3 linked regions of the Homo sapiens genome follow. The protein of the gene in region 1 purifies or fractionates together with the protein of each later gene. This does not show direct contact. Each region holds a gene or a part of one and is shown in the gene's direction. Other genes may lie near its edges.

The links.
Region 2: the proteins of NENF (region 1) and BLVRB purify together in Homo sapiens (affinity purification with mass spectrometry; 3 studies listed by BioGRID and IntAct, with this or other methods). This does not show direct contact.
Region 3: the proteins of NENF (region 1) and PDIA5 purify together in Homo sapiens (affinity purification with mass spectrometry; 3 studies listed by BioGRID and IntAct, with this or other methods). This does not show direct contact.

The regions. Positions count from the first base shown.
Region 1 is NC_000001.11:212,428,215-212,435,930, forward strand, and holds the start of NENF (neudesin precursor), read left to right. Parts: upstream 1-4,705; 5' UTR 4,706-4,729; coding exon 4,730-4,906; intron 4,907-7,716. UniProt on the Homo sapiens protein: Acts as a neurotrophic factor in postnatal mature neurons enhancing neuronal survival. Promotes cell proliferation and neurogenesis in undifferentiated neural progenitor cells at the embryonic stage and inhibits differentiation of astrocytes.
Region 2 is NC_000019.10:40,455,737-40,462,842, reverse strand, and holds part of BLVRB (flavin reductase (NADPH)), read left to right. Parts: intron 1-4,297; coding exon 4,298-4,462; intron 4,463-4,598; coding exon 4,599-4,688; intron 4,689-7,106. UniProt on the Homo sapiens protein: Enzyme that can both act as a NAD(P)H-dependent reductase and a S-nitroso-CoA-dependent nitrosyltransferase. Promotes fetal heme degradation during development.
Region 3 is NC_000003.12:123,153,990-123,161,095, forward strand, and holds part of PDIA5 (protein disulfide-isomerase A5 precursor), read left to right. Parts: intron 1-981; coding exon 982-1,052; intron 1,053-7,106.

The DNA.
Region 1 (7,716 bases):
ATTTCTAAATTTTTATGAAAGGAAATAATCCCTAAGTACCTTTACCTCCTCCTTTAGTAAAGCCTGTTCAGCACAGGGGAACACACCCAGGTGAAGATTGGCAAATAGACTACACTCAAATACCCCCATGGGAAGGATTCAAATATTTATTAGTATTCATCGATACCTTTACTTGTTGGATTGAAGCTTTTCCTACCTGGTCTGAAAAGGCAACTGACATTTCTAAATTTTTATTAAAGGAAATAATCCCTAAGTTTGGGCTGCCTAAAAGCTTACAGAATGGCTCATTTTTCACAGCAACAAGAACCCAAAATATATCACCGGCTCTAGGAATTCAGTATCATCTTTATTCAGCATGGAGGCCACAGTTTGCAGGAAAAGTAGAAAGGGCCAAACTTCAAAGAGGACTCTTGCCAAGTTATGCCAGGAAACATCAGAAACCTATTCGTCTCTATTGCCTGTGGCCTTGTTGCTAGTTTTGGCTGCCCCTAAGGGAAACTTGCAGCTCAGCTCTTTCGAAATAATGTATGGAAGTCCTTTCTTAACTGCAGATTTCCTAGTAGATATAGATACTTTCAAATTACAGAACTACGTTATTAACTTAGGTCGGGTGCAAAAAGCTCTTCTTGAATATGGAAATCAGAGACTTCCTCCCTCCACTAAGGAAGAAAATGCTACAATCCAGCCAGGAAACTGGGTTCTATTAAAAACTTGGAAGGAAGGGTCTCCGTTAGATCAACCTTCCCCAAAGTACTTGTACAAAGTACTCTACCAAGTACTCCTTAGTACCCAAACTGCAATTAAACTTCAAGGAATAAGCAGCTGGGTTCATTTATCTCGAATTAAACCCATTTCTTATGAAGTCCCACAGGCTGAGACTGATCTCACTTATCCCTGTGTACCAACCACTGATCTCTGGCGCCTGCTCAGAAGAAACAAGAAGGATGAATAACTTAAAGATTTGGATTAACATCTTAATTCTGCGCATGTATTGGAACCAGCTAAGAAGCAATCTCTTTGCCAAATGGGCACAGACTTTAGCCTCCCTACACAACAACACTAATTGCTGAGTATGCACGGAACTAATGCCTCCTCCACCTCAGGCTGCCCTGGCACATCCTGCCAGCCACTATGAGCATATGGGGAAATTATTATGATTGGGGTAAATGGACCACCCTTTTTCCCTTCTACTACAGAAACACAGGGCCCAGCCCTTTCCCTTCCCACCGTGAAACAAAGAAGCCTCTTTTTTGTTTGATCAGAAAATTAAACTCCACTCTGACGTAAGGTTATACTGTACACGATGAATGGATGACAGCTGTCTAAGTTCAGGTATTAGGCAGAGTGCCCCTATGCTTTGAAAGACAATAGCAGTGATTACTACACTGAAACCTGTAACATGGAATGGTTACTACCCCAACACTATAATTGCACCCTTCTTGTAACTAGCCAAACGTGGATGGGATGGCAAAATGAGTCTTTATGGCTAGGTGCTTGTACTTCTCCTTGGGGTTGATTATGGGCATGTGGGTCACATGGCTGGCCATATGTGCCTTATAATTGGACTGGAAGATGTACATAGGGTCATCTTCATCTCCCAGGATGTATCCTCACTAAATTATAATCTCTCCCATCTAACTGGGAAACTGTAAAAGCTCGTCATAAGTGACAAAAGCAGTCTTCTTGGTTGTTTTACCCATTGGCTATCTGTCACATGTGTCCGTATAGAAGACCACCTAAACAGGCTTTGTGTGAGCAACAGGGCTGTTTATTCACTTGGGTGCAAGTGGGCTGAGTACGAAAAGAGAGTCAGCGAAGGTAGATAGGAGAGGGGCAGCTTTATAGGACTGAGGTAGGCAGTGGAATGTTACAGTTAGAGGTGGTTATCTATTGTCAGCAGAGGAGGGGGTCACAGGGTCCATGGTGGGGAGATCATAAGATTCATTGTCCAGAAGAAGAATGTCACAAGGTCGATTGATCAGTTGGGGCAGGACAGGAACAATTCATAATGGTGGAACGTCGTAAGGCTGGTCAATCAGTCAAGGCAGGAGCTTCTTTTGTTGCACTTCTTTTGTGTTTTTTTGGCTGCTCCAGACTTCTTGGCTCCTGCAGGCCATCTGGACTTATAGGTGCAGGTCACAAGGGTTACAATGGCTGAGCTTCAGCTCAGAGGCCTGACACTGTCTTCTCCCCACAGGCAGCCACAATTGACATTGAGCTTCAAGCCAAAGCCATAGCTAAACACAGCTGCAGTTTTCAATAATACACGCCATGCCCTTACCCTCTTGACTGAAGAAACATCTCAAATTAGACAGATAGCCTTATGAAACTATGGCTCTGGACATGTTAACAGCAGCTCAAAGGGGGAACTTATGCTATAATCAAAACAGAATGTTATGCATACATTCCAGACTATTCACATAATGTTACTCAGGCCACAAAAGACTTAGACACCCACATCTCTGCCATTGACACGCTGTCAGTTGACCCCATATCAGCTTGGTTCTAACAACTGCCTAGTCCTTGGGAAACTTTTTTTGTTTAGCATGCTTGGGATAATTCTATTCATTCTGTTTTGTGCTGTGGAATATACTGCATTGTACTTTTTATGTAGGAATAAGAGTTAAGCTTATTCAATGCTTCTTTAAATTTAACACGTTAATTTTCTAGATTTCACCTTTTTCTGGGACTTAGAATTATGTATGATTGGTCCTCACTATACAGATGCTTTCTGACTGGCTAGCTCTCTACTTTGGGCAAAGGGATCCTAATGGTTAGGCAGGAATATCATCGCTTCTGTTCAGCTTGAAGTTACTGAAGATGGATCTCTGTCCCCCTGCACCCCTTAGGATTAAAGGTCTCCTTGTAAAAAGGAGGAGGGAATTATGTCAGAAGTGTCCTAACCAGAGTGATTCCATCTTGAATAAAGGTCAGATAAAGCCAAACCTGCTGGGCGACTTTCCCAGGAAGATAGGCACTCTTCACAAGATGTTTATGGTTGAGGAAATGAGATAATGGAAAAAGGCATTCTTAGTTTAAAAATGAGTTTCACTTTAAAGATAACAGTACACCCATAAATTCTCCCTGAAGTCAATAGTTACACAAGAGAATAACAATACTAATAGTCTGTAACAAGCTGATCATAGGCTTTTGTAATGAAGTACGCTAGTTTTAGCCCTATAAAAGCAAGCATTACATTGAAGGCAGAGGTGCTCCTATATAAACAATACTTGCTTAGTACTACTTCAAAGCAAGGATACTACTCAGAAACACAGTAGTACTATTATTAGAAATGGAGTAGTTTCTAATGAACTATTTTAACTACTATGCTCTGCGACTTGCCCTGATTCTTTGCCGTGGACGTCTAAGAACCTGCTCTTGGGTCTGGAATGAGACCCTTTTTCTGTTAATTCCTCTATTCCAGTCTTGAAAGTAAAAGCCAGTCTTGAAAATAACCTGTGAAGCCCCCAAGATCCACCCCCACTCCCTTACCCGCTTCCTTCCTGACTTCACCTACCCCTCTTACCTTCCCTTGATCCTCCAGCAAGCCGGGCATCCTCATTCCTCCGCATTTATGCACCTGATCCTTTGACCAAAGTGCTCTTCCCTCTAGACCGCCTCCTTCGCCTCCTGTAGATTTTTATGCAAATACCCTGTTCTCAGTGAGGCCTTCCCTAACCTGCCTATTTAAAATGACCATCCCCATAACCGGGCACCGTTCCTCACACCTGTAATCCCAGCACTTTGGGTGGATGAGGTGGATGGTTCACTTGAGGCCAGGAGTTCGAGACCAGCCTGGCCAGCATATAGTGAAACCTCATCTCGACTAAAAATTAAAAAAAAAAAAAATTAGCCAGGCGTGGTGGTGGGTGCCTGTAATCCCAACTACTCTGGTGGCTGAGGCAGGAGAATCACTTGAACCCGGAAGGTGGAGGTTGCAGTGGGCCGAGATGGCGCCACTGCACTCCAGCGTAGGCGACAGACTCCGTCTCAAAAATAAATAAATACATAACAATAAAATAAAATAAAATGTCCATCCCAGTGCTCCCTATCTCTTTGCCCTACTTTTTCTCCCTAGTATTTACCACCATCTAACATACTACTTAGCATCTTATTGTCTATCTGCCCACACAATGTAAGCTTCACGTGGGCGTGGATCTGTCTTGTTCAGTGGTGAGTCCCCAGTGACCTGGTACATGGAGGTACTCAAAAATATTTGTTGCATAAAGTAATGAGCAAAGTTTGGCACAAATGTTAGCTATTATTATTTCAGGGCGTATCGGTAACAGCACCCTACCCTTTGCAAAAATCTCCTTGGGAACCAGAAACTTAAACACAACCAGGAAGAAAAAAAATCAGCCAAAAATAAAAGCGAATTAAGACAGTTGGGGTCTTATTTTAGAAATATACCTTTCTAGGTTCTGGTATGTTGGGCTCTGTCATCTTTCTACCTGATCAAGGAACCACTGTGACATTTTTTGGTAACTTCCAGTCTGTAGTTTGGATTTAGGAGTTCAGGATTCCAATCCTAATTTCCAGGTTCCAGCTGCGTGGCCCGAGTAGCCCGGCCAGCCCCACCCCGGGGCGCAGGAGGCGCGCGAAGGGCGGGAGTTCTCGGGTCCCCGCCCTCGGGGAGGCTCTGGGCGCGGGGCGGGACTCCGGGACGCTGGGCGGGCGTGCTAGGGCCCCGCCGCCCTGGCCCGGCCTTGCCTTGCGCTGCGCGCTCACCATGGTGGGCCCCGCGCCGCGGCGGCGGCTGCGGCCGCTGGCAGCGCTGGCCCTGGTCCTGGCGCTGGCCCCGGGGCTGCCCACAGCCCGGGCCGGGCAGACACCGCGCCCTGCCGAGCGGGGGCCCCCAGTGCGGCTTTTCACCGAGGAGGAGCTGGCCCGCTATGGCGGGGAGGAGGTAGGCGGGGGTGTCGCGGGCCGAGGGACCCGGGGTGGCGTCCGATCTGCGGCGAGCCGAGCGGGGACCCAGGAGGCGCCGGCGGCCCAGGAAGCTCTGGGGGACGCGCGGCCCGCGGCGGGCGCCCTGGGCCGGCGGGGGGCCTCCTCTCTCTAGGCCCCGAAGGATGGCCGAGGGGTGAGGACGAGTCCTCAACAGTCGGAGCGCTCCGCTTTGCCCGCACACCCCACCCTGAACTTCTCCCTCGGTCCCCGGGAGATTTCCCCTCTAGCCGCCTTTTCGTTGATGATCTGCGTACAGACCTCAGAACTTTTTGGTTTTCATGTTAGCATCAGCCGAGGCGTTTACTGTGCCCACGCATAGTGGGGAGTGGCGGGGGACGGAGGGAGGGAAGCAGAGCCTGCTCCCTGGGTTAGGTGGGAATTGAGACAGGTCCTGGGATAAGCCAGTCTTTGCCTGCACTTCCTTTTCCTGCCCCTGTATCCCAGGCCTCTGCATCGGACTCCTCAAACCCACTTTTAGGTCATGTACCCCTGGGGCTCAGCCAAAGCTGGAAGTGAGCGCAGAGGGTGGACTGGAGGTTAGAGACCCCCACAACCCCCCCGCCACACGTCAATAGAGACCCCCCCGCCCACACACACCCACACACGTCAATAGTCTAGAGGCGTCCAGAAAACTCACAACCACCTGCCCACCTGGGTTGGTTGGGACTGGAGCCGCACGACAAGGACCAACAGGGGGCTGATATTAGATGTGGAGCGGGGGAACGGCATTGGGGGGAGGTCATAGTACCATAGTATTTCAGAGCTGGCAGGAACCCATCTCCTGCTTTTACACATAAGGAAACTGAGGCCTGCCACCTGTTAGTGGTAGAGCAGGAAGAGGCCTGATGTTTTTCAAAACCCTCTGGCCTGGTCTCGCTAATTCCTGAGTTAATTGGCCTTATATGGACTAGGATTGCATGGGGGTATCAGAAACCTGGCCCTTAGTCAGTGATGCCAGTTTGGGCATCATTTGTGAAGGGGCCATTTAGAACCATGAGTCAGTGAGGACACCGAGGGAGGGAGACATGGCTGGGATGTGAGGATGTTAAGGGATGCCTTTTTGCCGGTAGCAGAGGGAACCAGATGGTTCAGAGTCCAGGCATCCGTGCAGAAAAGAATTAACATGGCAGGCCTGCTCTCCTTAGAAAAGCCTACTTGCAAGGGTGGGACTTGTCTAGTGTCTGGATTTCTCACCCTTCCCTACCCAATAACGGTGGACTCACTTGCCTAGGCCGTATATACAGATGGTGTGGTTAGTATTGAACACTGTATATGCTAGGCAGAGGGTGCCCCATGTGACCAGCCCCCAGTGAAAACCTTGGGTGCTGAGTCTAATGGGCATCTCTAGCAGAGGAATGTTCTGCCAGAAGAATGGCACATACTGTCAAGTTTTGTTGCTGGGGGAAGAGTGTGCTCTTCCTCATGGGAGGGAGAGAGCATAGGAAACCTGCACATAGATTCCCCTAGATTCTCCCTCTGTGTTTTTCCTTCCCAGCTGTGAGTAGAACTATATGCTGGGTTCTTGGAATCTTCCTTCTAGGGACTCTCCAACTGACCCGATGATCTTTGGGACCACTGGCACAAGAATCTAAGGAAAGAGAGAGTTCACCACTGAGGTTACAGCAAGAGTGCCAGAACTGCAAGATGAGGACTGAGAAAAGACCCTTGGTTTTTTGATGTTGATGTTATAGATTGAAATTTAACTGAGAGAGAGAGGACCTTGAGATGGAAACAGGGGTAGGAAACAATTGTTTTGGGAGTGGAGCCTGAGGATCTCTGTAGGTGGAAGGAAGGAGCCAGAGAGAGGAGGGGAGCGAGGGACGAGAGAGGCAGTTGAGTGCAGTGGGTTCAAGCTGTGCTGCGCTGTTGTTTGACCTAGATTGTTCTGGTCTATGCCTGTTATCCAGGGATAATTATTAATAACACCCTTTCACTCAGAAGTGTGACAATTTGTATAATACATTGGATCATACCTGGTTTTGAGTCCCTGTTCTGCTGTGTGATTTGGGGCAAATTACTAAACCTCTCTGAGTCTCCACTTTGTTCGTAAGATACTTGGATTAGTCCAGGTTTCACCAGGGAACAGAACCATTTGGATATCTATATCTATACAGTTGATCCTTGAGCAACACAGGAGTTCGGGGTACTGACCCCCATGCAGTCAAAAGTCTGCATATAACTTTTTTTTCTTTTAGAGGCAGGGTCTTGCTGTGTCGCCCAGAATGGAGTGAGTGGCTTTTCACAGGCAGTCATGGTGCACTAGAGCCTGGCAATCCTGGGCCCAAGCGATCCTCCTGCCGCAGCCTCCCAAGCCGCTAGTATTACAGGTGTGCACCCAGCCATGTATAACTTTTGACTACCCCCAAAACTACAGTTTTTTTCCTTTTTTTTTTTTTTTTTTGAGACAGGGTCTCACTCTATTGCTAAGCCTGGAGTGCAGTGGCAGGAACACAGCTCACTACAGCCTCCTCCTGGGCTCAAGCAGTCCTCCTACCTCAGCCTTCCCAGTTACTGGCATTACAGGTGTGCACCACCACACCTGGCTATTTTTTAAATTTTCTGTAGAGATGGGGTCTTCCTGTGTTGCCCAGGCTGGTGTCAAACTCCTGGGCTCAAGCAACTCTTCCACCTCAGTTTCCCAAAGTGCTGGGAATACACGTGTGAGCCTCCATGCCTGGCTCAAAACTTAATTACTAATAGCCTACTGTTGACCACAAGACCCAAGAACATAGTCGATTACCACGTATTTTGTAAATGTATTATATA
Region 2 (7,106 bases), on another chromosome or scaffold:
TTAGCTCACTGCAAGCTCCGCCTCCCGAGTTCAGCCATTCTCCTGCTTCAGCCTCCCAAGTAGCTGGGACTACAGGCGCCTGCCACCATGCCCAGCTAATTTTTTTTGTATTTTTAGTAAAGATGGGGTTTCACCATGTTAACCAGGATGGTCTCCATCTCCTGACCTCATGATCCGCCCGCCTCAGCCTCCCAAAGTGCTGGGATTACAGGCGTGAGCCACCACGCCCGGCCAATGGCTGAGATTTTCAAAAAGCTTAAAAAGAGGCCAGGCACCATGGCTCACGCCTGTAATCCCAGCACTTTGGGAGGCCAAGGTGGGCGGATCACAAGGTCAGGAGATCGAGACCACCCTGGCTAACACCGTGAAACCCCATCTCTACTAAAAATACAAAAAATTCGCCGGGTGTTGTGGTGCACACCTATAATCCCAGCTACTCTGGAGGCTGAGGTGGGAGAATCGCTTGAACCTGGGAGGCGGAGGTTGCAGTGAGCTGAGATTGCGCCACTGCACTCCAGCCTGGGCAAGAGAGTGAGACTTCATCTCAAAAAAAAAAAAAAAAAGAATGCCCATATTGGCCCATGCAAGCCCCTGCTGCTCCCCCATGTGTGAGGGCAGCACAGATCTTGTGTCATTCCCCTATGAAAGGTGGTCACATAGCACGGGGAGGCTGGTGCTGTGATCCTCACTTCAGAGATGAGGAAGCTGAGGTCCAATCACGGAAGAGGTTGCATGAGGTTCCTCAGCTGGTAAGTGGCAGAGCTGGAGTTTGGATCAAGGTCCCTGGGGCAGTAATGCCTGTGCTTTTGTGTTTACAAAGGTTCAGGGAGATGGCAGAAAACATGACACAGTCCCTGGACCCACAGGGTGCTTGGTTTGCTGCAGGTCAGCATAAAGAGGGCTGTGACAGAGGAAGTACAAGTTACTGGGGGGACCGGGTAAAGAGGGTAAAGGGTGTTCCAGGCAGAGGGCACAGCACGTGCAAAGTCCAGGAGGCAGGAAGCAGCACCATGCATTTGAGGAACTGAAAGAAGAGCAGTTGGGGCCGGGTGCAGTGGCTCATGCCTGTAATCCCAACACTTTGGGGGGCTGAGGCAGGTGGATCACACAGTCAGGAGTTCGAGACCAGCCTGGCTAACATCGTGAAACCCCATCTCTACTAAAAATACAAAAAAATTAGCCAGGCATGGTGGCAGGCGCCTGTAATCACAGCTACTCAGGAGGCTGAGGCAGGAGAATCGCTTGAACCCATGAGACGGAGGTTGCAGTGAGCCGAGACTGCACCACTGCACTCCAGACTGGGCAACAGAGCGAGACTCCGTCTCAGAAAAAAAAAAAAAAAAATGTGCTGTGGGTGAAGAGGGCAGAGGCTTCAGCAGAGCCTGGAGAGGAGAAGCCAGATCCCGAGGGGCCTGGAAGGCTGGCATGAGGAGCATGGGTTTTATCACAGGGCATTTCAGGCTTGCGGGAGGCAACTGAGCAGAGAGGCACTTAAATATTACTGTGGAGAACTCTGTCTGGCTGCTGTGTGGAATATGGATTGGAGAGGGCAGGACTGGGTCCAGGAGCCCAGGGAGGACCCAGGAAAGGGACCAGGAAGGAGACGTAGGCCTGGATCAGGCCAGGAGATAAAGTTGCAAAATGGTTACAAGGTGTAATAGGCCACGCTCGGTAGCTCATGCCTGTAATCCCAGCACTTTGGGAGGCCATGCCAGGCAGATTACTTGAGTCCAGGAGTTCGAGACCAGCCTGGCCAACATGCAAAACCCCATCTCTTTTTTTAATTTTTTTATTGTGTCTTTTTGGGTTTTTTGGTTTTTTATGTTTATTGTTGTTGTTGTTGTTTGTTTTGTTTTGTTTTGTTTTGTTTGAGACGGAGTTTCGCTCTTGTTGCCCAGGCTGGCGTGCAATGGCACAATCTCAGCTGACTGCAATCTCTACCTCCTGGGTTCAAGCGATTCTTCTGCCTCAGCCTCCCAAGTAGCTGGGATTACAGGCATGCACCACCATGCCTGGCTAATTTTGTATTTTTAGTAGAGGCGGGGTTTCCCTGTGTTGGTCAGGCTGGTCTTGGACTTCCAACTTCAGGTGATCCACCTGCCTTGGCCTCCCAAAGTGCTGGGATTACAGGCGTGAGCCATCGCGCCCAGCACCAGGTAACTCTTATTTCTGTGCCAGGTAGTAGCCTAAACTTTTTGTTAATTTAATTTAATTTAATTTAATTTAATTTATTTATTTATTTTTGAGACAGAGTCTTGTTCTGTAGCCCAGGCTGGAGTGCAGTGGTACAATCATAGCTCACTACAGCCTCAGCCACCTGAGTAGCTGAGACTACAGGTTGCGCCAGCACACCTGGCTAGATTTTTTTTATTTTTTTTGCAGAGACGGGGTTTCACTATGTTGCCCAGTCTGGTCTCAAACTCCTGGCCTCAAACAATCTTCCTGTCTTGGCCTCCCAAAGCACTGGGATTATAATAGGCATCAGCCCAGGAATTTGAGGTTACAGTGAGCTATGATTGGCGCCCCTGCACTCCAGCCTGGGCAACAGAGCAAGACCCTGTCTCTAAATATATATATATATATATATATATATATGTTGCTATTACAGTATACCCAAATGTTAACATCCTTTGCCAATGTTTAAAACAAAGGAAGAAATATGTTAGTTGTGAACTTTAAAATGTGTGTGTATGTGTGTGTGTGTTGAAGAGAAACAAAATTATCCAAAATTATTTTGGGAAGGAACATACTAAGACAATATTAAAAATCTTTAATGACCACTAAAGGAGGGCTGGGCTTCCCAGCAGTAAGGCTGGGCAGCAGGGGCTGGGACCAATCCCAGCACTGGTCAGTCTGTAGGCAACCCATGTCCCCCTCAGAACCTCAGTTTCTTCCAGGACCATGGATGGGAGACAGAGACCAGTGCAATGCCTGCATTAACCCTTTAGTTGTTAGAGGGTAGGGAAGTTGCTGGCTGGGTACAGTGGCTTACGCCTGTAATCCTAGCACTTTGGGAGGCCAAGGTGGGTGGATCACCTGAGGTTAGGAGTTCAAGACCAGCCTGGCCAACATGGTAAAACCCTATCTCTACTAGAAACACAAAAATTAGTTGGATGTGGTGGCATGCGCCTGTAGTCCCAGCTACTCGGGAGGCTGAGGCAAAAGAATCGCTTGAACTTGGGAGGCGGAGGTTGCAGTGAGCTGAGATCATGCCACTGTGCTCCAGCCTGGGCAACAGAGGGAGACTCTATCTCAAAAAAAATAATAATGATAGCCAGGTGTGGTGGCACGTGCCTGAACCCGGGAGGCGGAGGTTGCAGTGAGCCGAGATTGTGCCACTGCACTCTAGCCTGGGTTACAGAGTGAGATTCCGTCTCAAAAAATAATAATAATAATAAATAGAAGGTAAGGAATTTACAGGGTGTGGTGCTTGGAGGCTTCAGTTCAGATTATTTATGAATTATCATGAAGGTATGGTCTTTTTTTTTTTTTTTTTTTTTTTTTTTTTTTTTTTTGAGATAGAGTCTCGCTTTGTCATCCAGGCTGGAGTGCACTGGTGCAATCTCTGCTCACTGCAACCTCCGCCTGTCGGGTCAAGTGATTCTTTTGCCTCAGCTTCCCAAGTACTTGGGATTACAGGTATGTGCCACCATGCCTGGCTAATTTTGTATTTTTAGTGGCAATGGGGTTTCATCATGTTGTCCAGGCTGGTCTCAAACTCCTGACCTCAGGTGATCTGCCCGCCTCAGCCTCCCAAAGTGTTGAGATTACAGGCGTGAGCCACCATGCCTGGCCAAGGTATGGTCTATTTTAATAATCAGCCCAATACTAAGCATCAACTGTAGGTATGCCAGCAAAAATGTTTGAAGGCCACGGCGCAGTGGCTCATGGGGAGGCTGAGGCAGGCAGATCACCTGAGCCCAGGAGTTCAAGACCAGCCTGGGCAACATGGCAAAACCCCTTCTCTACAAAAGATTGCAAAATTAGCTGGGTGTGGTGGTGCACACTGTGGTCCCAGCTACTTGGGGTGCTGAGATGGGAGGATCAGTTGAACCCCGGAGGTTGAGGCTGCAGTGAGCTGTGACTGCACCATTGCACAGCAGCCTGGGCAAGTGAGCAAGACCCTGTCTCAAAAACAAAACAAACAAAAAGAAAAAACCAAAAATGTTTGAAGACCACTTCCCCAGAACAGAGGAGGGGATGGATTTGAGAGTTCATGGTGGCTTCTAGGACCCAGCTCCTGGAGCCCAAGAGTGCCAGCCCACTGACCAGGCTCTCTGCTCCTCTTTGCCCACAGGTTACGAAGTGACAGTGCTGGTGCGGGACTCCTCCAGGCTGCCATCAGAGGGGCCCCGGCCGGCCCACGTGGTAGTGGGAGATGTTCTGCAGGCAGCCGATGTGGACAAGACCGTGGCTGGGCAGGACGCTGTCATCGTGCTGCTGGGCACCCGCAATGACCTCAGTACTGAGCCCCCCCTCTGCCCACGGCCCTCCCCTACACCTCGGCCCCCAGCGCCACCCCCGCCCCCGGCCCCGCCCCTGCCACCCCTGCCGCCGCCGCCGCCCACCAGTGACAGCCACTCTCTGTCCCCTCTAAGGTCCCACGACAGTGATGTCCGAGGGCGCCCGGAACATTGTGGCAGCCATGAAGGCTCATGGTGTGGACAAGGTCGTGGCCTGCACCTCGGGTGGGTGGTGGGATCATGGAGGTGGGGCTGAACTGGGGGGTACTGGGGAGGCAGCCCAGGGGCCTCTGAAAGGTGACGCTGAAGCCATTCCATGTTACTGTGCATTTACTGAACACCAGCTGTGTGCCTGAACCTTACTGGGTGATGCTGGGGACACAGTGGTGACCTGTACAGCCCTGGGCCCTGCTCACACAAGGCTCACAGAGAGAGGTGGTAAACAGATCCATGATCAAACTGACATCCAGATCATCGGAGCTGGGATCGGGAGGCAGGCAGAGGGGATAGGGCCACAATGGGAGAAACTACAGGACTATGGGAGCCCAGAGGAGGCGTCCGACTTAGGCTGAGAGAGGTCAGGGTAGGCCTCCCAGAGGAAGTGATAGAGCTGTGGATAGACACTAGGTCTCTGCCCTCACAGAGCTCCCGATTATGGGGACACAGACATTAAGCAAATAGTTGCCCTGTATAATCATTTATTTATTTATTTATTTATTTATAGTTATTTTGAGGTTTGTTTGAGATAGAGTCTTGCTCTGATGCCCAGGCTGGAGTGCAGTGGCGTGATCTTGGCTCCCTGCAACCTCCGCCTCCCGGAGGTGGTTCTCCTGCCTCAAGTGATTCTCCTGCCTCTGCCTCCCAGGTAGCTGGGACTACAGGTGTGCACCACCATGCCCAGCTAATTTTTGTATTTTTAGTAGAGACAGGGTTTCGCCATGTTGGCCAGGCTAGTCTCGAACTCCTGACCTCAAGTGTGTTTCATGACACAAATTGCCTCCCTGGAAAGGGAAGTGGCATGAGGGAGGGCTGCCTGATGATTGTAATTACACTCCAGGCAGAGGACAAAGCAAGCAAAGAGGCCTGGAGGCCAGACCTAGTTGGAGGGTAGGAAGCAAAATCATTTATGGCTTTTTTCCTCAAGCTCTGAAATGGAAAAGTAATACACGAGTAAACTTGCGATTTCAGAATGGTTCACTTTTTTTTTTTTTTTTTGAGACTTTCTGTCACCCAGGCTGGAGTGCAGTGGTGCAACCATGGCTCACTGCAGCCTCAGTCTGGGTTCAAGTGATCCTCCCCACTGCAGCCTCCCAAGCGGCTGGGACTACAGGCATGCACCACCACACCTGGCTAATTTTTTGATATTTTTGTAGAGACAAGGTCTTACTTTTGTTCGCAGATTGGAATGGTCTGCTGTTAATTTTAGTTTTGTTTTTTTCTCCCATGTCTTTTTTTCTTTGAGATGAAGTCTGACTCCATTGCCCAGGCTGGAGTGCAGTGGCGTGGTATCAGCTCACTGCAACCGCCACTCCACCTCCCGGGTTCATGGTGCCTGGGACCAAGATCGTGGCCCACAGTGATTCTCCTGCCCCAGCCTCCTGAGTAGCTGGGATTACCGGCGCCTGCCACCATGCCCTGCTAATTTTTGTATTTTTGGTAGAGACAAGGTTTTGCCATGTTGGCCAGGCTGATGTTGAACTCCTGGCCTCAAGCAGTCCTCCCACCTCAGCCTTCCAAAGTGCTGAGATTACAGGTATAAGCCACCACGTCCAGACTCTCCCATGTCTTAAAAACCAATTTAACTGGTTAAGTTTTGCTTCCATGAAAAAGACAAACCTGTAAAATTGATTTAATTTGCTTTCTTTTTTCTCATTTTTTTTTGTTTAGATTGTTTTCTAAATATTAAAGTCTTAGGTGTGCCAGGATTTTTTTTTTCATTAAAAAAAAAACAAACATAGAGACAAGGTCTCGCTCTGTCACCCAGGCTGGAGTGCAGTGGCCTGATCATAGCTCATTGTACCCTTGAACCCCTGGGCTCAAGGAATCCCCTCACTTTAGCCCCTCAAATAGCTGGGGCAACAGGTATGAGCCATTGAGTCCAGCTTAACTTTTTATCTGGAAATGATCTTAAACTTACAGAAAAATTGAAAGGACACCAGTACACCTACCGTCCTCTGTTCACAGACACACAATGTTTTTTTTCTGACCCATTTGAAGTTAGCTTACATACATCATGGCTGCTTACTTCAATGTGTAGGTCCTCAATATACTTTTTAACTTTTTATTATAAAAATTTTTAAACAGAAAAGTTAATAGTCGTGTGAACAACCATATTCCTTTTCTTTTTTTATTTTTAAGTTTGTAGCTATCTATCTATTTATTTATTTATTTTGAGACCGGGTTATAAGGCTGGCTAATTTTTGTATTTTTGGTAGAGATAGAGTTTCGCCATGTTGCCCAGGCTGGTCCCGAACTCCCGGACTCAAGCGATCCACCAGCCTCAGCCTCCCAAAGTGCTGGGATTACACCTGAGCCACTGCACCTGGCCAACAGCCATATTCCTGATTTTAAAATTGTGATTGTGTTTTGTAATTGGTTTATCTATGCACATACACATACACAAATAGATTTTGTTTTTGTTCT
Region 3 (7,106 bases), on another chromosome or scaffold:
TGGACAGTTCTGTTCACCAGTGACTGGGAAAGGGCTGAGAGAGGAGGGGGGTTTGGGTTCTGATCTGTTAGTGCTGAGGGAAGGGCTGGATCAGCCTGCAGCTCCTGGGCTCACCAGGACAGGAGGAGAAAGTGGCCCCCACAGAGGTCCCTACCCTGCTTCTGAGACACTGAGGTCAGAGTTGGGGCTCAGGGTGATGCCCAGAACAAGAGACAGATGCTGGAGGTAGGGGCCCCAGTATAGCTCAAAGGCCTTAGGCTGCTCTGACAAGCCTTCTCCCTGGGACAGGGAGCATCAAGGGACCTGAGGACTGCCTGGTGACTTCCCGTAGCTCCTCTCCCTCTTACCCTGACCATGGCCTTCCTGTTCCTGGCTTTGAGGTTCTGGTTATTGTAGAGCAAAGAGTAGATGGAGACCTGGGGACCAGGGCCTGATTTGGCTGCTCACAGTCTGGGCTGGGTGGAGGTTGCTAGGAATGCAGAAGTTAGCAGCAAATCATGAGCAGTGGGTGCAGAGTAGTTGCCCCAAAATCCCCCCACCCTGCATTTCCCAACGCCACTTCCTCTCAGTCAGGAAATGGAGAGATTTGCTATTGTCCCTGGAGCAAGAGAAGATTGTAGCGGCTCTGAGAATCCCGTGCCTTCCTCTTTAAGCCCAAAGCTCCCTCTGCCCCCAAGATCAGGCTGTTCCTCGTCCTCTGTGGAAGGAGCAGAACTAGACTACAGTGACCATCGCCCCCCAGCCTGGGCAGGAGCATATGATGCTTGTGACAGGGACTCCTACCAGTCCCCCCTACCAATAGATCAGACATGGGTGGGAGGTGGTTAGAGTGGCAAGGTTGACAAAAGGACCCTGACAGTGTGGCGGGCAGTGGGGAGCTCCTGGAGAGCCCTCTCTGGAGCTTTCAGGAAGGGTCCCTGGCCCTGCAGCCTCCCTGCACATGCATCACAGTCCTGTGTGCTCTCTTCCCCTCTCACACAGGGTGCCCACACTGTAAGAAGGTCATTCCGCACTTTACTGCTACTGCTGATGCCTTCAAAGATGACCGAAAGGTAAGGACAGCGCTCTTCATCTCTTGATCTGCCTGCAGCTAATTCCTACACCTTCCTTCTTGTCATTCAGGTCCTTCCCCAAACAGGGGCAGGTCTGCTAAGACCTGTAAGCAGGAAATTCCTTGGGAACCAGGACATTCTCTTTAGAAGGAAGATAGGGCAGGCTGGATTTATGCTGCAAAATCAACTAAAAGGGATATGCTGAACCATTCCAGCACTTACTTGGAGGAGAGGGATGGTTAAAGGGGTCATCTATTTACTTTTTTAGTGTTTGAACCTTTTTACTGTAGGATTGTCATCATGCATTACTTATATAATTAAAAATACAAATTTAAAAATCCAACAAAAGTCAACTGGAGGATGCCATGGTGGAGGAGAGCAAGGCCATGTCAGTGGAGCCTCGCCCTGCCTAAGTGAAAGGCTCCTGCAGCTGCCGACTGATGAAGCATAAAATTAACAAGCTAGAGCTGCAGATTGGATTAGAGTGCAGGGCCTCCAGGCGCGTCCCCCAGGCACATCCCCCAGGCAGCTGGTGCAGTGGGGGCTTCTGCTGGGAGAGGGCTTGTGGGGCAGGGAAATACCCCTGAATTCGGGGAAGTGTGATTGACTGCCAGCCTTTGAGTTCCCTTCTCATCCATGCCAGGCGGAGCACTGGTGCAGAGGACTGCAAACATTCCTCCCAGCCCTGAGACTCAGTCATGGGAACCTCTGGCCTAACAGGCCCTAGAAGCTGGCAGTCACGTGGGATCTGCATTCACACACACCCAAACCCAGAGTCACGTGCAGGGGTGCCTTACTTTCCTGGGTGGAATCCCAGGTGGGGCCAGGGCAGGCTGGAAGGAACCAAGGCCAGGCATAAGCTGAGCATAGAGTCCTAGATGATAAACAGGCCAAGCAGGCCTAGACGGAAGTTCAGCCGAGGCAGGAAAGGGGAGCAGGTATTAGTGGAGCAGCCCTCACAAGCAGAGACAGATGACCATCCCAGGGCCGGGTGGGCAGGGTTTGAAGTTTTGATCAAGGCCAACAGGAGGTCAGGCCTAAAGGTACCATCCAGACCTTGTGGGAGCAGAGATACAGGTGCTAGGATCACCTTAACAGGCCCAGAGACAGTGGCAGAGATGGGGTAATGAGAACTTTACAGGGACATAAAGCCAAAGGAAGCCAGGCTGGGGACAGGCCCATGCAGGCAGAGTGGGGATGAACTGGGAACCTGATTCTCACTTAGACCCAGAGCCCAGGACTCTCTCTGGAGTCAGGAGGTCCCATTGTTACCCGAAAGCCCTGGCTGCGGCTTTGAGGCACCCCTCACCCCCACCAGAAGGGAGTACAAGGACCAGAAGCGTTTTCTCCTCTGCCTGCCCCTTTCCCTGCACTGAGTGGGGTATGGCAGCAGGGGCTTCCTTCCCGTGTCCATGTCCCTCATTGTTCCCACCCACTTGTGCACAGCACAGGGTAGTTGCTCCTGCTTGGTGGTCCCACGATATCCAGCATGGCCTGGGCTGCCAGTCCACAGGACCGGAATAGCTGCCACTCTGTATTGACGTCCATCACGTGCCACCCAGAATGCTGGGTGCTCTGGGCAGCAGGAGAAAGGCTGAGGTGTGCCATCTCCCTGTCCCACTGGACACTCAGGTCTCCATAGGCCCCAGGAGATCTGTGAGGGTCCTGAGGCATGACTGGCAGACAGATCCTGGGCTTGCCCTCCCAGCCATGCTGGGGAGCATGGTGTCAGGGAGCGTGGTCCAGCTGAGGCACCGAGGGGGCTGGGGAAACCCTGAAGGGGCAGCCCCATTGACGTGGCCCCTTTCTGCCCACTAGACCGCCGCTGAGGCTGTCCTGTGGCCTGACCCACATCAGTGCAGGTGAGGCCAGACTTGCCAGGCCTCCAGCGGGCAGCTGAGAGCCCACGTCTTCTCTTCCCATTCCCCCTGCACTGCTACATGGGGGCCCATTTCCTTGATGCTCCCCTCCGCTTAGACACTGACACACCTTTGCTTGATTGTCTTGGGCCAGTGGTGTTGTGGCCTTTTCCTGGGTTCAGTCCTCCTGTCTCTTATTCCCTCTGTCTCTCCTTTCAGCTTCCTTTATTCCAAGCCAGGGATCACCCTCACTTGCATTCAGGAATGCACTTCATAACCTCTCTGTCTGAGGCAGGTGGCCTGCCTGGGTTTCCTGGAGGTTATATTCATGACATCAGGGAAGCCAGCCATCTGGCCTGGGGGGCTGAACTTACTGGTGCCCACTCTGTGCTCCAGGCATGGCACTGTGACTACTGGGTCCCATCCTACAACTATCAGATCAGAGTCTCTGGGGGATGGTGCTGGAAATTTGTGGTTTTTAAGAGCTGGCTCTTGTGCTGGCCACAGGCTGGTGTGTGGGGACTGTTGGCCTGTCCCCTCTCCCTTTACTCGTGAGGGATCCAGGCCCAGAGAGGAGCTGTGTCCCTTGTTCAGGAATGCCCAGCGGGTCACTGACAGCCAGAACTGGGTCTCCTGACACCCCAAGCTGCCACTTCTTAGCTGGAATTGTGGGGTTTTTCCACCCAGAAGCCAGCCCCTGTTCCTATCCCAATCAATATGCAGTTGGTTGTTCACTTCCATTTTCATAGCCAAAGTCAATATTAGCTCCTGCAGAGATTTATTTTACTGAATCAATAAAGCTGTGTGTGGCAGCTCATATTTTAGCAGGGGAGCCTCCACCCCCTCCCGGGAGCTTACTTGGGGACTTTATCGGTTGGCACACTGGTGGGGAAAGGAATGCAAAGTGTTAGTGTTGGAACAGATGGTGTTATTGAAGGGGCAAGGCAGACAGGACCTGTGGTGGGCTGGCAAGCAGGTGGGGGGCTCACCTTTCACTGCACGTCAAGGTGTGCAGGCTGGGGGTGGTGTGGGGCCAGGTGTGAAGGTCACCCTTAGAGGGAGGCCCTGAGGCAGTGGGGGCCCCACCTCTGCCATGGGCCCACTTCACTGCTGGAATCTGGCCATGACATGTAGGTCCTCCTGTTTATGAGGCTGGCTACTGCCTTTTCCAAGTGAAAGCTCCCTCAGGACAGAGACCTCATTTGTCCTTGAACTCCCCACAGTCATGACACCTTAGACCTGTGTAAATGTTGACTAGGTGAAGGAACAATATAACATATTTGATATTTACTGCGAGCTCTTCTTCCACTGAAAGCATTTCTTACATCATGTTGTCCTTACAATAGCTTGCTCAACTAGGTATTGTTACAGTGCTCATATTGCTGAAGAGGTGATTGAATCTTAGAGAGATCATATGCTAGTTTCTCAGCTGGAGAGGGGCAGAGTGAGAATCGCAAACAGGCATTGTCAGAGTTTGAGTTCTCCCAGAAGCAGACCCTGCTCCTGGGCTCATGTGCAGGGAATTTATTTGGGAAGTGATCTCAGGAAGTTCAGAGAGGACCCTGGAAGTGAGACACGAAAGGGGAGGAACCAAAGCAGGTGTTTTATGGGCAGATGACTGGATGAGTCACCAAGGCTCAGTCCCACAGGAGACCTCACCAGGAAACGTGACACAGAGCTGTTCCACTCAAAGGCCAAAGAAGCCAGGGTCCTTGTTCTAGACCCCCATCTGTCATTGGCCTTACGTCCAGCTCCTTGAGGCTGGGAGGATGCTCTGAGGCTGAGAGTAGCAGGTGCTGTGGCAAGGGCTGGTCTGAGGGGATGTGGCAGGACACCAGCAGCGTGTGCCCCAGGATTTGTACCAACCACCATAGAACAAATTGAGAAATCGTAGGTGTTCTGTGTTGCAGGTGATCAGTGCAAATCTTGAGTTGGGTGTAAGGGGACAGGCATTTAGGTGAAATTTCAATAGCTGAGAAGAGCTTTATTCGCTGCCTTCTTTCCAAAGAGTCTAAGCTGCTGCCTTTGGGGAGGACGCATTTGTCTCTTCTTCTGTGGAAAACGCGCGTGGATTCACCTTTGCAGCTAGAAGTTGCATTCCATGTGTGCGGCTGGCAGCTAGTTTAGGTGATTCAGAACAAGTATACATTTCTAATTTAGTAGATTTATAAAACCATACACTATATTTCCAATAGCTCCAGGGCATTGTATACAAATTAAATTCATAATTTAAAGCAGATGCAGGGAGAGCAGCAGCCCAGAGCCATGTTCATCCAGCACTTTCATGGCGGAGCAGCAGCTCCTGGCCCGGGCTGGGCATGGGGCCTCAGCCTCTGGCTGCAGGGAAGGAAAGTATGTGGATGCCCGTGTCCCTGGGCAGGGCCCCATAGCACCTGCCCTGAGAAATGGAACCCCACAATTTGGCCAGGGGAGCATCTGCCTCATGTTTTTAAATAATAAAGTGCGTTAGAGGTGGGCTGCGGTTATCAGAAGTGCATAGGGGCCAGTCTGCTGGCCTGGGTGAACTGGGCTCCAGGGGGTGCTGGGGAAGGTATGTTTAGCCTACCTGAAGGACAGCTGCCTCTCTGCCCAGCCAGTTGTCACCTGTGAGACTGCAGGGTAAGTGCCATCAAGTCTTCTGACTTTTAAAGAGAAGCTGGAAAGCCAAATTGTTGTATTAAATCTTCTGGCTCCATTTCTATGTTGGAGCTAATTCAGATTTATTTTTTTTGTTGTTGTTAAATTCAATGTGGGCCAAATAGAAGAGGACTGAGAGCCAGATACAGATTGCAGGCAGCAAGTTTGTAAACTCCATTTTAAAAGTCTCACCGTATAGAATGTTACATAGCTGAAGAGTAGAAGGGAAGCGTGAGGGTGAGGGGGGTGAAGGTGGCACCTGGTGGCCAGGGGAGGCCGCACCTCACTCTTCTCTTCAGCTATCCATCTGGCAGCTCACCTGGGCATGAGGGACATGATGAGTAAACGTGGCCATGGGGGCCCACAGGATTCTCCTACCTGGAAAGGGGCTTTGTCCAAATGCAAATAACCATCAACCAAAGAACTGTGTGAATCATGGTTATTCAATAATTTTAAATTATCTTATTGAATCACCCTCTTTTAATTTCTTCCAAGCATTCATTGAGCTCTATCTAAAATGATCTAATTTGTCATACAGCAGACGCTTGATAACTGGACTTTGTCAAGGTCGACGTTGTCCCCCAGCATCTAGAACAGGCTTGGCACACGGCAGGGTTTCAGTGTGTGTTGCCTGGTAGGAGGACTCATTCTCATGGGAATCTGCCCCATCTTCCATAACACCTCTGTACTGGGTATGGCCATTGAGGACCCCTTCTCGGGCTTCCCTGGTGCATGACCCTCAACCGGAAACAAGTTCCCCATTTCTGCTTTATACTGTCTTCCTTTGAAAAAACAACAAATGATGAGGAAAAGCTACCCAGCATGTGGAATTTGCTAGATGGTCAAGAAGAGGCCAGTGGCCAATGTGGGAACCACTTTCTGACCAAACATTCTGATGGCTTTACTCATGCGGGGCTCCTCCAGTTTCCAGATGTGCTTCCCTGGTCTCCTCCTCTTCCAGTCTTGGCTCAGATGGCGAATCATACAGAGCGCCTTTGCCCCACTCACCTGGCACCTGGACCACCTCCCTCATCCCTCACATCACATCATGTTGGAATTGTCCCTTTATCCAACCCCTGCCCAGACACTGAGCCCCTAAGTGGGGACAGAGCTTGTATATGGGGTTGGAAGAAGTGACTGTAATAGCAGCTGACATTTCCTGACCATGAATCTGGTGCCAGGTTCTGTGCTCACTGGCCTCACTGGAATTCTCTTATTCAGTCTTCACAATATCCTGATAGCCTAGATACTATTATTATCCCCATTTTACAGCTGAAAAAAATGAGGCACCAAGAGGCTGAGTTATTTTCCTTAAGTCTTACTGTCCAGGCAAACCAAGAGTGCACTTGGGGAACTTGACTTGAAAGCTCTTGCCCTTAACCTTGGCACTATACTGTCCCCCCAAGCTAATGTTCCGGAAATATTAGTGGAGAAATGATTAAATCCTACAGTCCCTTACAGATAGCACCACAGAACCTGTGGTGTTTACAAATGCTTTCAAGTCATCATTTCCTTTACGATCATCATACTCTTGATTTTAAAGGACAGTCTAAAGGCA